Linked DNA regions of Homo sapiens. The protein of the gene in region 1 interacts with the protein of each later gene in a biochemical or structural test. Each region holds a gene or a part of one and is shown on either strand. Other genes may lie near its edges.

The links. The genes of interacting proteins can lie anywhere in the genome.
Region 2: of the proteins of BIRC3 (region 1) and USP19, one has a biochemical effect on the other in vitro, tested with the Homo sapiens proteins (one study listed by BioGRID).
Region 3: the proteins of BIRC3 (region 1) and PACS2 form a complex in vitro, tested with the Homo sapiens proteins (one study listed by BioGRID).

The regions. Positions count from the first base shown.
Region 1 is NC_000011.10:102,337,194-102,339,903, reverse strand, and holds the end of BIRC3 (baculoviral IAP repeat-containing protein 3), read right to left. Parts: 3' UTR 501-2,710; downstream 1-500. UniProt on the Homo sapiens protein: Multi-functional protein which regulates not only caspases and apoptosis, but also modulates inflammatory signaling and immunity, mitogenic kinase signaling and cell proliferation, as well as cell invasion and metastasis.
Region 2 is NC_000003.12:49,114,324-49,117,823, reverse strand, and holds part of USP19 (ubiquitin carboxyl-terminal hydrolase 19), read left to right. Parts: coding exon 1-167; intron 168-253; coding exon 254-387; intron 388-462; coding exon 463-765; intron 766-880; coding exon 881-1,097; coding exon of another isoform or gene 1,098-1,103; intron 1,104-1,216; coding exon 1,217-1,373; intron 1,374-1,472; coding exon 1,473-1,544; intron 1,545-1,661; coding exon 1,662-1,777; intron 1,778-1,879; coding exon 1,880-2,100; intron 2,101-2,184; coding exon 2,185-2,380; intron 2,381-2,462; coding exon 2,463-2,596; intron 2,597-2,706; coding exon 2,707-2,865; intron 2,866-2,950; coding exon 2,951-3,061; intron 3,062-3,500. UniProt on the Homo sapiens protein: Deubiquitinating enzyme that regulates the degradation of various proteins by removing ubiquitin moieties, thereby preventing their proteasomal degradation. Stabilizes RNF123, which promotes CDKN1B degradation and contributes to cell proliferation.
Region 3 is NC_000014.9:105,317,748-105,321,247, reverse strand, and holds part of PACS2 (phosphofurin acidic cluster sorting protein 2), read right to left. Parts: intron 1-3,500. UniProt on the Homo sapiens protein: Multifunctional sorting protein that controls the endoplasmic reticulum (ER)-mitochondria communication, including the apposition of mitochondria with the ER and ER homeostasis.

The DNA of each region.
Region 1 (2,710 bases):
TATTTATTAAGACATGGTCTTACTATGTTGCCCAGACTGGTCTTGAGCTCCTAGACTCAAACGATCCACCTGCCTTGGCCTCCTAAAGTTCTGGGATTACAGGTGTGAACCACTGCATCTGGTCTTGAATTTTCTTAGTAACATACATAGTGTCTACTATGATGTGCAAGACAACAAAAGGAGGTGACATCTTCTCCAATAGGAGCTGAATATGGTTCAATCACATTGCCTGTGACCACAAAGGAACTTAATGGCTAATGGTATCAAGCGATATAAGGAAATTAAGAGAAAGGTTGGAATGGAAGCTATAATGAGCATGGCTGAAGTATGAAATTAAGCCTGCTGCAAAGTCCTGTATGATCACACTTAATATATTGAGGTTTAAACCCAATGACTGAAGACCACGTTGGCTGGTAGGTGGGGTTGGAGGCAATCAAATGGATTAATGCATGTCAAGCACCTGAAAACATCTGACATTTGGTCAGCAAATAGATCTACCATTATTATCTATGGTGATTTATTTTTTCCAAAACAAAATGTCAAAATAACACTTAGGGAAATAACATATTTGAATAAATGGGTTGGTTATAATAGCTATTTATTACCATAATGAGAAATGAACAAAAGTTTTACAGTGAGATGACAAAGTTCAAATATTATCTGTAGTATACAAGAACTAGATAAAAAAAAAAACACATGGTGCAAAAAGGGTGCCTACTATTTAAATACCCTATACCTGAGTTACAAATCACCTAAGCACAATTACAAATAATTCAGCCTAGCACCCATGCAGGACACTGGCTAGTACATGGGTAGCCAGCAGAGCCTCTTAGCAGAGGCAAAATCAATTGCATTTCAAGGAAATAAGTCTCCCAGCATCAGAATGCAGAGATGGATTCTTTCCTCCCCTCACTTGGTCCCTAATTGTTCTCTTTACAACACTAGCAGATGTTGGGGCTCAGAAAACCCAAAGTGAAGGCCTCAGAAGCAAAGTTTTTCTCTGATGTTATCCTGCCCTCCTGTCTCAGCCTCATTCTCCCTGAAGGCAAGCCACAGAAACTTGAATTCCTCTTCCCCAAGGTAGGTCATAGAAACTGGAACCATCTTTCCACAATGCCAGACTTACATCTTAAAGATAGTACTCTAATCTTTCCTCACCTAACTATGTAAGAGCTGGCCATAAATAAATTCTCTGACCTACCTTGCTTGATAGCAGGTTATAATATCCCCATCCCATACAGGCCCTGCCCTATATCCAGGAGGAAGGAATGCTGCACAGAGACCAAGAATAATCTGAACAGACAGGCCTTGCTGGGTCCCCAACCTGTGTCTATTCCCATTAGATCATATCCTTTTTTTCCAATCACTATTCTTCAGGGCTGTCCATTCATTATCAAACCTAAGCATAAAAATGCACAGTTTCCCCTGTAATTTTGGATCTTCATTACGAAGGCTCCCCGGTGATGTAAATCTGTGATTAAATAAATTTGTTAAGTTTTTCTCTTGTTAACCTGTCTTTTGTTATAGGATTGTCAGCTGTGACCCTTATGAAGGGGTCTTTCCCTTCTGCCCTTACAGAGCCATCTGCCCCTATACAGACATCTAGAACTGGTTTAGATGACTAGCCTTTGCCTGCCTTCCCCTGAGTATTCCCTATTACAGTCTTACTTCTGCTCTTGAAGACCTAATACCTCTATAAGAAGCAAAGGACAGAGTTATGACTCGGACGTGTTGAGTACCAATAACATAATGCAGAGGGGGACATTTTGTTGCACTGACAATATGAAACAGATTTATTTACCAGAACAACCTGTTGGTCCCAAGCATTGCTAACCAGTGTACTTTCTAAGTTTCAGAATTAATACCAAAGAGATAAGAATAAAACTCAGACCTTCTTCCAATAGGTGGGGCTGGCATGAGACTTCTTGAATGAATCAATAGAGAAGTGAATAAACAAACTTACTAAAGGGACTGTTTGATTCTTGTCTCAGGCATTCCATAATAGATTTTATGATGTGTTGACCCCGTGTTCTACAAGTGTCAATGAAGAAGCATCTTATGGGAAGGAGTATAAACTGTAGTTCAATATTTGAGAGGCTTTAAGAAGGTATGGAAAGAGTCTGGGAGTGACTAAACTATCCAATGTCATTGAAATAAAGCAATGAAGAATAAGAGTAATTTTTGTTGCTTTATTAAATTTTTTCTCACAGAATTCTTTATAAAAACACCATGTCCCTAAAATGTCATTCAACATATATGCACACCTTCGATGTATAGGACACTGATCAAAAAAGACAGAGAAATGTGTCCCTGGTGTTTTGTTTTTGTTCTGTTTGTTTTTAAAGGCAGGGTCTCAGTATGCTGCCCAGGATGGATTCAAACTCCTGGGCTCAAGTAATTCTCTTGCCTCAGCCTGGGACTACAGGCACATACCACCACACCTGGCTTCATGTTCCCGGTATTAGTACAATGCCAAAATATTTAAAATTCTTAAAGGTTAACTCAAATATCTTAAGTTTTACTTCACTTACAATTTCAATAATGCTGAAATTTTGATTGAATATTGTGTTTGTAGTGCTACCTCTTTTTCGTTCATAAGAACAAAAGCCTATCATTCTCTTAGTTTCTAAAAAATATATGTTCATATGGTTTAGATACATATATAAATATGTTACACAAAACAATGTTTTTTGAGTTGTAAATAAATAAA
Region 2 (3,500 bases), on another chromosome or scaffold:
TGAAGACCCTCATGATCTCTTGGCTACTCCCACTCCAGAGTTGTTGCTCGATTGGAGGCAGAGTGCAGAAGAGGTGATTGTCAAGCTTCGTGTGGGAGTAGGTCCCCTGCAGCTGGAGGATGTAGATGCTGCTTTCACAGATACAGACTGTGTGGTGCGGTTTGCAGGTGTGTCCATCTGCCCTGAGCACAGTAGTATGTTTGAATCTTCTGATATCTCCTATCCTACCTCATGGACCCTGCTCTGTCCCCAGGTGGTCAGCAGTGGGGTGGTGTCTTCTATGCTGAGATAAAAAGCTCTTGTGCTAAAGTGCAAACCCGCAAGGGCAGTCTCCTGCACCTGACACTGCCCAAAAAGGTGCCTATGCTCACGTGGCCCTCCCTCCTGGTGAGTTCTAGTAGTACAGGGTTGGGTAGGGATACCAGTGTAGTCGACAGGGCCTGACTGCTGTATCTTTGGCAGAAGAAACCTCTAGGGACCCAGGAGCTGGTGCCGGGGCTGCGGTGCCAGGAGAATGGGCAGGAACTGTCTCCCATTGCCCTGGAGCCAGGCCCTGAGCCCCACCGGGCTAAGCAGGAGGCCCGGAACCAGAAGCGGGCCCAGGGCCGTGGTGAGGTAGGCGCAGGGGCTGGCCCCGGGGCCCAGGCAGGGCCCAGCGCCAAGAGGGCTGTGCATCTCTGCAGAGGGCCAGAGGGGGACGGGTCCAGGGATGACCCTGGACCCCGGGGTGATGCCCCACCCTTCGTGGCTGACCCAGCCACCCAGGTGAGAGCTGGGCACCTGTTTGGGTGTTAGGAGATGGGGGGAAAGGGTGTGCACTGGAGTGGGAGCCACCTGGCAGACCCAGGGCTGATTCTTTCCACAATCTTGCCATTAATAGGTTGAGGCTGATGAACAGCTTTGCATACCACCGCTGAACTCCCAAACCTGCCTCCTGGGCTCAGAGGAGAATTTAGCCCCTTTGGCAGGAGAGAAAGCAGTGCCTCCCGGGAATGACCCAGTCTCTCCAGCCATGGTCCGGAGCAGAAACCCTGGGAAAGATGACTGTGCCAAGGAGGAGATGGCAGTGGCAGCAGATGCTGCAACCTTGGTGGATGGTAAAGGTGGGGGTGGGCAGGCAGAGCCCTAGGTTGGGTTGCAAAGTTTGTAGGTGGATAGAGAGTAGCAATAGGCTGGAACCTGTCCTGGTTGGGGCTGAGCCATGGTCTCAATATAGAGCCCGAGTCGATGGTGAACCTGGCGTTTGTCAAGAATGACTCGTATGAGAAGGGCCCGGATTCAGTGGTGGTGCACGTGTACGTGAAGGAGATCTGCAGGGACACCTCAAGAGTACTTTTCCGTGAGCAGGACTTCACGCTCATCTTCCAGACCAGGTGGGTGGGTAGATGATGGGGCAAACAATGCCTCAGGTGGGACAGTATGTCTCATGCTCTTCCTCTTGTCCTTCCTCCTATCCTGCTGTGCCTCTGCAGGGATGGAAACTTCCTGAGGCTGCACCCGGGCTGTGGGCCCCACACCACCTTCCGTTGGCAGGTGAAGCTCAGGTGGGTGGTGCCCGGCCCCACCACTGTGCCTGTCCTACCCCGTGGGCTCCATCTCCCTGGCTCATCTATCCTGATGCTCATTCCTCCTAAGTCCCTGAGTTCAGCCTTTTCCCACAGGAATCTGATTGAGCCAGAGCAGTGCACCTTCTGTTTCACGGCTTCTCGCATCGACATCTGCCTTCGTAAGAGGCAGAGTCAGCGCTGGGGGGGCCTGGAGGCCCCGGCTGCACGAGGTCTGCACACGAGCTCCCTTCATTGCCCAGTTCCACGTGACCAGGACCCAAACCCCTGTCACATGCTGCTAACCACCAGCCCTCTCATTCCCCCTTTTTAAGGTGCAGTGGGTGGTGCAAAGGTTGCCGTGCCGACAGGTCCAACCCCTCTGGATTCAACCCCACCAGGAGGTGCTCCCCACCCCCTGACAGGCCAGGAGGAGGCCCGGGCTGTGGAGAAGGATAAATCCAAGGCACGATCTGAGGACACAGGGCTAGACAGTGTGGCAACCCGCACACCCATGGAGCATGTAACCCCAAAGCCAGAGACACACCTGGCCTCGGTGAGAATTCTGGGGTGGGAAGGACGAAGAATGGAGGCTGGAGAGTCTTGGGGCTGTTCTCTCATGTCGTCTTTGCTCCTGCAGCCCAAGCCTACATGCATGGTGCCTCCCATGCCCCACAGCCCAGTTAGTGGAGACAGCGTGGAGGAGGAGGAAGAGGAAGAGAAGAAGGTGTGTCTGCCAGGCTTCACTGGCCTTGTCAATTTAGGCAACACCTGCTTCATGAACAGCGTCATTCAGTCTCTGTCCAACACTCGGGAACTCCGGGACTTCTTCCATGGTGAGGGCAGGGCCTGGAGCCTGGGTTATGGGCAGAGAGAGTGCCTTTGTTCCTCACACCTTTGCTCGGCTACTATTCCTAGACCGCTCCTTTGAGGCTGAGATCAACTACAACAACCCACTAGGGACTGGTGGGCGTCTGGCCATTGGCTTTGCCGTGCTGCTTCGGGCGCTGTGGAAGGGCACCCACCATGCCTTCCAGCCTTCCAAGTTGAAGGTGATCTGTGACCACTGTCACCCTTGGCTGGAGGGGGCGGGGAGGGCCAGCCAGCTGGGTGTGCAGTGGGTGCTAGGGCTTCATGTTCACACCTTGGCTCCTGTATCCAGGCCATTGTGGCGAGTAAGGCCAGCCAGTTCACAGGCTATGCACAGCATGATGCCCAGGAGTTCATGGCTTTCCTGCTGGATGGGCTGCACGAGGACCTGAATCGCATTCAGAACAAGCCCTACACAGAGACCGTGGATTCAGATGGGCGGCCCGATGAGGTCAGGGTTAGGGACAGAGGGTGGGCATGTCTCATGAGCATCCCAGCCCCTGGTACTCTTTGGTTCTCACCACTCTGCCTCTCAGGTGGTAGCTGAGGAAGCATGGCAGCGGCACAAGATGAGGAATGACTCTTTCATCGTGGACCTATTTCAGGGGCAGTACAAGTCGAAGCTGGTGTGCCCTGTGTGTGCCAAGGTGTGATGGGCTCCCCTGGAAAGAGACCCCCTAGTTCAGCTCAGCTATTCTGGTCACATTAGGTTCAGAGGCATGTGCATCTTAAGGTGCTACAGGGCAAGGTTTGGGCAAAGAAGCTGGCAGGGAGGCCTTAGGATTCTATTTGGGCTGAAGAGCCCACTCAGGGTAGGCTTCCTGACTGAGGGAAAAGTGATGTTAGAGCTCAAAGGTGTTGTAGCAGGGTTGTGGGCACATGGGGTGCAAGTGTGAGGCCAATTCGTAAAGTGGCTAAGCTGAGTAGGGCTTTGAGTGCCAGAAAGAAGGATTGTTATTTCCTGGTGGTCCTCCTGCCCTGTCTAGTGTCCTGAAGCCTGAGAGTTTGCTGGTTGGCTGTGGGGGCCCTGAGAGCCATCAGAAGCCCCGGAATGGGCTCTCTGAGCATGAGCATCTTATCTCCCAC
Region 3 (3,500 bases), on another chromosome or scaffold:
ACCAAGCTTGATCTAATAGACAAACACTGCACCATCAACTGCCAAACACACATTCCTTTTAAGTATAAACAGAACGTGCATTAAAATTGACACACTGACCCAGAAAGCAGGTTCAAAAAAAAATGTTTTTGCAGTGGCGCCATCTGGGCTCACTGCAACCTCCGCCTCCCAAGTTCAAGTGATTCTCCTGCTTCAGCCTCCTGAGTAGCTGGAATTACAGGTGCGTGCCACCACGCCTGGCTAATTTTTGTATGTTTAGTAGAGATGGGATTTCACTACGTTGCCCAGGCTGGTCTCGAACTCCTAACCTCCGGTAATCCACCCACCTCAGCCTCCCAAAGTGCTGGGATTACAGGTGTGAACCACCAGGCCCGGCCAGTCAGGTTATTTTATAAGTGAATTATCCCAAACATTCAAGGAAGAAATGATTCCAATTTTACATAAGCTATACCACGATACAGCAAAAGAGGCAGTACTCATTTCATTTCACAAGGAAATCTTAGCGCCAAAATCTGCTAAGGACTACAGAAGAAAGGAAGCACATAGACCCCAGACACACATGCAGAAGTCCTAAACAAGATACTATCATCTAAACCCACCAATGTGGGCAGGTAGGGAGGCTCACACCTGGAGTCCCAGCTCTTTGAGAGGCCAAGGTGAGAGGATCACTTGAGGCCAGGAGTTGGAGACCAGCCTGAGCAACATAGTGAGACCCCATCTCTACAAAAAATTTAAAATTAGCCAGGCCAGTGGCATGCACCTGTAGTCTCAGCTACTCAGGAGGCTGAGGCAGGAGGATTGCTTGAGCCATGGTCACACCACTGCACTCCAGCCTAGGCAAAAGAGCAAGACCCTGTCTCAAAAAATAAATACATAAATAAATATATATCCACCAATTTTTAAAAAGGGTAATACAACATGCTTAAACTAGTATTTTTCCAGGAATAGGTTAATGTTAGAAAATCAATTTACGGCCAGGCATGGTGGCTCACGCCTGTAATCCCAGCACTTTGGGAGGCTGAGGTGGACGGATAACAAGGTCAGGAGATCGAGACCCTCCTGGCCAACACGGTGAAACCCCGTCTCTACTAAAAATACAAAAATTCGCTGGGCGTGGTGGTGCACACCTGTAGTCCCAGCTACTTGGGAGGCTGAGGCAGGGGAATTGCTTGAACCTGGGAGGCAGAGGTTGCAGTGAGCTGAGATCACGCCACTGCACTCCAGCCTGGTAACAGAGCGAGACTCTGTCTCAAAAAGAAAAGAAAAGAAATAAAATCAATTTATGTAATTTACCACAATAGTAATGAAAAGATAAAAATTATATAATCCTCTTAATGAAAGTACTTGATTATATTCAACATCCACTCATAATGATTTCTTTAAAAAGCCTTTGCAAGTCATGAATAGGATGAGACTTTTTAAGTGCATAAAGGCTATCCACAAAAAGTTGCAGCAAACATCGTCCTTAAAGGTAAAACACTGGAAACCTTCCTTAAGGTCAAGACAGAACACGGGTAATCCACGCAACCAACCATATTCAACACTGTACTATGACAACTGGCACAGTCAGGCAAGAGAAAGAAAGAAAAGTATGAGGATTGAAAAGAAACAACTTTGTCTTTTGCAAAAGACAAAACATACATTTTGAAAATACAAAATAATCTATAGATAAGTTACTAGGTTAAAAATAGTAAAATCACTGATTTCTTTGAAAAATCAACTGAATTTCTATATGTTAGCAACAAACATAATAAAAAGCTGACTTTTACTATGACTTCTAAAATACAAGCATCTAGGAATAAATGTAACAAAGGATATGCATGACAGCAGAATCTTGTAAAACTCTCAAAATACATTCAAGACCTAAGTAAATAGCTTGATCATGAATGAGAAGACTCAGTACCACACAAACGTCAATTCTCCCCAACCTGCTCTACAGAGTTAAAGAACTTCCAATTATAAACCAAATGTGGCTTTGTGTGAAACTTAAAAAGATAATTCTGGCTGGGCGTGGTGGCTCACGCCTGTAATCCCAGCACTTTCAGAGGCCAAGGCGGGCGGATCACGAGGTCAAGAGATCGAGACCATCCTGGCCAACATGGTGAAACCCTGTCTCTACTAAAAATACAGAAATTAGCTGGGCGTGGTGGTGCACGCCTGTAGTCCCAACTACTCAGGAGGCTGAGGCAGGAGAATTGCTTGAACCCGGGAAGTGGAGGTTGTAGTGAGCTGAGATCGTGCCACTGCACTCCAGCCTGGGCGACAGAGCTTCTCAAAAAAATAAAATAGGCAGGGCGTGGTGGCTCACGCCTGTAATCCCAACACTTTGGGAGGCTGAGGCGGGCGGATCACGAGGTCAGAAAATTGAGACCATCCTGGCTAACACGGTGAAACCCCATCTCTACTAAAAATATAAAAAAAATTAGCCGGGCGTGGTGGCGGGCGCCTGTAGTCCCAGCTACTCGGGAGGCTGAGGCAGGAGAATGGTGTGAACCCAGGAGGCGGAGCTTGCAGTGAGCCGAGACAGCACCACTGCACTCCAGCCTGGGTGACAGAGCGAGACTCCATCTCAAAATAAAATAAAATAAAATAAAAATAAATAAATAAATAAATAAAATAAAAATACAAAAATTAGCCGGGCATGCTGGCAGGCGCCTGTAGTCCTAGCTACTTGGGAGGCTGAGGCAGGAAAATCGAAACAGGGAGGCGGAGGTTGCAGTGAGCCGAGATTGCACCACTGCACTCCAGCCTGGTGACAGAGTGAGACTCTGTCTCAAAAAAACAAAACAAAACAAAAAAATTAGACAGACATGGTGGTGTACACCTGTAGTCCCAGCTGCTCAGGAAGCTGATGTGGGAGGACTGCTTGAGCCCAGGTTTTAGGGGTTACAATGAGCCATGATCAAGCCACTGCACCCCAGTCTGGGCCACAAAGTGAGGCTCTGTCTCTAAAAACCAAACAGATGGCCAGGCCCAGGGGCTCATACCTGTAATCTCAGCACTTCGGGAGGCCGAGGTGAGAGGATCACTTGAGCCCAGGAGTTCAAGACCAGTCTGGGCAACATAGGGAGACCCTGTCTCTGCAACAACAACAACAAAATACATAAATAAAAACAAATTAATAAACATCAACCGAAAAAACAATCAAGTGGGAAGGGCAAGGTACAAAGCAGCCCAGCCCTTGCTGAAGAGCAGGTGGGGGCGCTCAGGGACATGGGCACCAGGAGGACACTCTGGGAACCCAGGAGGCAGAGGCCACAGACAGGCACTGACGCATACCCCGTGGACCACCTAGGAGCACCGTGTGTAACAGTGCTGAGCCAAAAGCGTCGCAAGGAAACCCGGAGCACAGGCCTCCCCAACAACAGCCCAGCATGCCCAGTTCAAGCTCCCGGGGGCAGACTTCTCCGGCTGCCTCCCAGAAGGAGAACCGAAACGAGACCAGCACCCCAGCCTGGCAAACAGTCAATGTGCACACTCCACCAGGCTGACACGGGGAG